Regions from separate parts of the Homo sapiens genome. Here region 2 is linked to region 1. The links come from fine-mapping of genetic effects on gene expression. Tissue or cell type: whole blood. Region 1 holds a variant in brackets; the other region holds the start of a gene. All regions are shown on one strand. Distances are from middle to middle.

What was found. PIP is the estimated chance that this variant, and not a neighbour inherited with it, causes the effect.
Region 2: WASHC1 starts here. The variant in region 1 is fine-mapped to the expression of WASHC1 in whole blood (TOPMed, PIP above 0.99).

What each region holds. Positions count from the first base shown.
Region 1 is chr9:49,300-51,986 of GRCh38, reverse strand. No RefSeq gene overlaps it. Among named protein-coding and RNA genes, the nearest start is that of FAM138C, 15 kb to the right of the region's middle. The variant T/C (reference allele first, on the strand shown) is at 1,186.
Region 2 is chr9:28,431-31,117 of GRCh38, reverse strand. It overlaps WASHC1 (WASH complex subunit 1), which reads left to right and starts at 1,662. Exons shown (of 11, transcript NM_001378090.1): 1 at 1,662-1,806. MIR1302-9HG (MIR1302-9 host gene) reads right to left here and starts at 1,459. Exons shown (of 3, transcript NR_197460.1): 1 at 1,236-1,459; 2 at 673-776; 3 at 227-360. It overlaps MIR1302-9 (microRNA 1302-9), which reads right to left and starts at 974; the gene lies at 837-974.

The sequences.
Region 1 (2,687 bases):
CACTTTTTCTTATATTCACAGCAATTTATAGTTTGGGGGTCCTTAGTGGAGGGGGTGGGATATATGTATGGAGTAAATTTCTTTTAAAAATTGAACACACAAAAAAATAGGGAGAATAAGAAATAGATAACATGTACCCATTATCTTGTTTTTCTATTTTGCTTATCTTTTTTTTTCTGAAGAATTTTAAAGCAAATTATAGCACGAGAACATTTCACACCCAAATATTTTTGTATGCATCTCTTAAAAAGAAAGACACGTTGCTGCATGACCGTGCTAACATACCTAACAATAATAACATTAATTCTCCAATATCACCTGAAAACTAATCTATAGTCAAATTTTTCAATAATCCCCAAAATATTATTATTTATAGCTGTTTTATTCAAATCAGGATACATCTAAGGATGCCATGCATTTGCTTGGCAAGTCTCTTAAATCTCTTTTAATCTAGAATGCTGAGTTTGCATGAATGTGGGTAGGAGCCAAATTTTAACCAGCAACAGTTACCATTATAAATTATTCCTCATCCCAGGCAAAGCAGTGCATTCTGAAGGGAAAACTTATTATCTATCCCTCCTTGTAGACGTTTTACACGTTATCCAAACAAGAAAGTGTATTCATGTTGAATATTTAAAAAACAATATTGTAACCACAAAGCAGAAAACTAAACCACCAAACCACAAAGGTAGACAACAATAGAGGAAGAAGAGAACAAATTATCTACAAAGTAACCAGAAAACAATTAGCAAAATGGCAGGAGTAAGTCTTTTACTATCAATAATAACCTTGCTGGTACATGGGTTAAACTGTCCAATCAAAAGATATAGAATGGCTGAGTGGATCAACAACAAGATCCAACTAGATGCTGCCTACAAGAGACCCATTTTTAAACTTTAAGAATAGGCATATACTGAAAGTAAAGGGATAGAAGGAGATATTCCATGAAAACAGACAGTTACCAAAAGAGAGCAGGGATGCCTATACTTATAGCAGATAAAACAGACTTCCAGTAAAAAGCTGTTCCAAGAGACAAAGAAGGTCATGATTTAATGATAAAGAGGTCATCTTATCAAGAGGACATAACAATTGTAAACATATATGCATCCAAAATTGAAGCACTTAAATATGTAAAGCAAATATTAGTGGACATGAAGGAAGAAATATACAGCAATATAACACTAA[T/C]AGGGGACTTCAGTACTCCACTTGCAACAATGGAGAGATCAACCAGACAAAAAATTAACAAGACAACACTAAATTTGAACTATACTTCAGACCATATGGACCTACCAGACCTACATTCATCCAACAACAGCAGAATATACATTCTTCTCTAGCATACATAGAACATTCTCCAGGATAGACCATATGTTAGGCCACAAAATAAACCTTAACAAATTCAAAAAGGTTGAAATCACTTCTAGTATTGTTTCCAACCACAATGGTGTGAAGCTAAAAATCAATAACGGGAGGAATCTTGGAAAATTTACAAATATGTGGAAACTAAACAACATGCTTATGATGAACTAACGGGTCAAAGAAGAAATCAAGAGGGAAATTAAAAAATATTTTGAGATTAATGACAATGGAAACACAATGTATCAAAACCTACAGTATGCAGCAAAGTCAGTTCTAAGAGAGAAGTTTATAGCAATAAATGCCTAGATTAAAAAAGGAAAAAGATCTAAATAAGTAGACTAACACTATGCCCCAGGGAGCTAAAGAAAGAACAAACTAAACCCAAAGTGAGCAAAAGGAAGGAAATAATGAAGATCAGAACAAAAGCAAACAAAATGTAGTATAGTAAAACTATAGAAAATATAAATAAAATCAAAAGTTGGTTCTTTGAAAAAATAAAATCTACAAACTCCTAGCTAGATTCACTAAAAAAAGCAGACTCAAATAAAATCAGAAATGAAAGTGGAGACATTGCAATAGATACCTCAGAAATAAAAATGCTCATAAGGGATTATTATGAACAATTTTATGCCAACAAATTGGAGGACCTAGAAGAAATGGATAACTTTGCTGCTACTCAGATACATTTTATTTCAAAAACATACACTAAGGTGTTGCTGTTGGATCTTTCCAAAAACATATTCACACAGAACTTTCAGTCACACTGAGCCATATTTGAACAATCTTTCAAGGTCAGCTCTGGCATAAGCTAACATTATACCATTTAACTCAGAAATTTCTTTAGTATTTGATTAATGGGTTTATGTTTGATATGTAATGTAATTTTCTAATGCTAAATCAAGTGGTAATTTTGTTAGTCAAGTTGATTTAGTGGCTTGGGAAGAAAGCTTTTAATGTTCCCCTAATTTTTCTTACCTTTGACATGATCCTTCACATGTCTTATTTTGCTTAGTGATTTTTCTTTTTTTTTTTTTTTTTTGAGACAGGGTCTTACTCTACCACCCAGGCTTGAGTGCAGTGGTGCGATCACAGCTCATTGCAGCCTTGACCTCCCAGACTCAAGCTATTCTTCCACCTCAGCCTCCCAAGTAGCTGGTACTACAGGCACATGCCACCAAACTTGGCTAATTTTTGTATTTTTTGTAGAGACAGAGTTTTGCCAAATTCTCAGGCTGGTCTGGAATTTCTGGGCTCAAGTAATCCTGCCTTGGCCTCCCAACATGCTGATATTACAGACATAAGCCACAGTACCTGGCCAGTTTTCTTTT
Region 2 (2,687 bases), 21 kb after region 1:
TCATGGCTTGCCCAGGGTCACACAAAGAATGAATAGCAGATCCCTGAGCCTGTGTGCTTCCCTCTGTGCCAGGCTGCTTTACCCAGGCATGGGTGCACGTTGTGCATGGGACATTTCTCCTTTGTTGTGTCCTGAGTACCTTAAGCCACTCAGATATTGCTCAGGTGGAGTGAGGGGAAAATGTTTTCAGGTTGTATTAGTCAAAACAAAATACCACACACTGGGCGACTTTAAAATCATACATTTATCCCTCACAGTTCTGGAGGCTTGGAAGTCCAAGTTCAAGGTGGCAGCTGGACAGGTTCCTGGTGAGGGCTCTCTTCCTGGTTTGCAGACAGCCACCTTCTCTTCGCATCCTCACTTGGTGGGAAAAGACAGAGGAGAGAAAGAGAGAGAGAGAAAAATGAGATAGAGAGAGAGAGAGAAATGAGATAGAGAGAAATGAGAGAGAGAGAGAGAGAGAGAGAGAGAGGGAGACACAGAGACAATGCTCTCTTTTCTTACCAGATCTATAATGAGGGCCCCACCCCATGACCTCATCTAACCGTAATTACCTACCAAAGGCCCATCTCCACATACCATCACATTAGGGGTTAGGGTTTCAACATAAGCATTTGGAGAGGACATAAACATTCTGTCTACAACATGAGTGGAGATCCATCTCTTCTTTACCTCTGGTAAGGGGACCACACGCTGCAGCCAGCGAGACAGTGGCATGTTCTTGTTACAACTCGATCTAACTCCCCCAGAAGAGGAGGCAGGGAAGGCGGACAAAACTGGGAGAGGGAGAGAGTGTTAGGAAGAGAGTAGGGTGGCCAGAGGCAGCAAATAAAATATAAAATGCTTAATTCTGAATCTCAGATAAACAACCAATAATGTTTTTTAGCATAAGTATGTCCCAAACTAAGCTTGGGACATATTTATGCTACGAAATTATTCGTTGTTTATCTAAAATTCAAACTAGCTGGGCATCCTGTCTTTTAATCTGGCAACCCTAAAAGGCAAGGGCCAAAAATGCCGGAGGCAAGCCAACGGATTCCAGGAGGGACAACTGCTGGACTTTGGACTGATGATGCTCTTTTTATATATTTAACTTTTTAAAAAAGCCTCTTTTCTTTCTTTTTACCAGCTTTTCACTAGCTTTTTAAAAATTGTGGTAAAACATACATAACCTAAAATTCACCGTCTAAACCATTTTTCAGCATACAGTTCAGTGGGATTAAGTAGATTCACACCGTTGTGCCGCCATCACTACCACTCATTTCCAGCACCCTTCCATCACCCCAGCCTGAAACTCTACCCATTGAACACGAGCTGCCCAACTCCGCCTTGCTTCCCCATTCCTGGCGACCACTGCTTCTGTCTCTGTGAATTTTGACTATTCTAGGCACTTCACAAAACTGGACTCATACGATATCTGTAGTTTTGCGTCTGGCTTCTCTATTGAATTCTTAAAGGGGGGTGGGAACTAAGCAGATCACAAGGGAGCTGCCCACAGAGGTAAAGACAAGGTCAGGTAGGCTGAGAGACGCAGGAAAGCGGGTCAAGGCGTAGGGCTGGAGGGCAGGGGCGGGCCCTGGGCGTGGGCTGGGGGTCCTGCCCCGGGGCGCACCCCGGGCGAGGGCTGCCCGGAGGAGCCGAGGTTGGCGGACAGCTTGGCCCTGAGCTTGAGGGGAAGGCAGCGATGGGACAAAGGACGGAGGTCTAGGAAGAGGGTCTGCAGAGCAGAAAGCACGGGTAGGGGCGGCCTGACGCTCGGAAGACAACGGATGGGAGCCGTGTGCACGTCGGGAGCTCGGAGTGAGCGTGAGTTCCGTGCCCAGGCCCGCGACTCGGCCCGACAGGACAGCGCTCCGGGTCGACGGGGTCCTGGAGCCGCGCTCGGGGAGGCGTCTTGGGCTCGCCCCGGAGCTTCCTCCCTGGAGCCGCGCCCTGCACCCGGCCTTGCCCGGCCCTAGCAGGGAAGCCAAGGCTTGTGGGGCGCAGGGACCCGGGCTCTGCGGGGTCCCGGTTCCGCCTCCCCACTCCTGCGTCTTCCCGCCCCTGCCGGGTTCTGGGAAGCCTCGCGCGGCTCTTCCGCAGCTGCTGCCCGCCCGGAGCTCCTGGTCCCTCGTAGGGGACCCCACTTCTCTGACACCGCTTTGGGTTCCCGGGGCCTACAGCGAGGCTTGTAACTCCGGGAGAGACCCTGGAGCGGGGTGTGGGAGAACGGTCTGGAGGAAGGGCTCCGAGCACTTCGAAAGTATAAACCGCGGTCCCAAAGAGGCGTGCTGTGTCTGCATTTTCCTGGGAGTGCACGGTTTACATTCTCGAAAGCAGTGCTGTCGACTAGAAATATTGAGCGATACACATGTACAAGTTTTGTCACTTAAAAAGAATTTGAAAAAACTTCATAGATGCAAAAAAAAAAAAAAACCCACCATTATTAAAGAATACTTAGGTATTTGTGGAATGCATTGAAGAGTTAACAAAATGGATAGGCAGGAAATATCGCAGACCTAGAATGAATTACAGTTACCCACTGTGGAACTGAGGAGCTAGGGTTTCTCATAAAACTCCCTGATAGAAGACGACTTTTGATAAAATTTTTTTTCCGCCAACAAAATCCCCTGTCTTCTCAACTAGTTACTGTCTGTCCACTAAATAAGAGGTGGTCCGTCACTTCTTCAGATGAGCAACTACAGGCT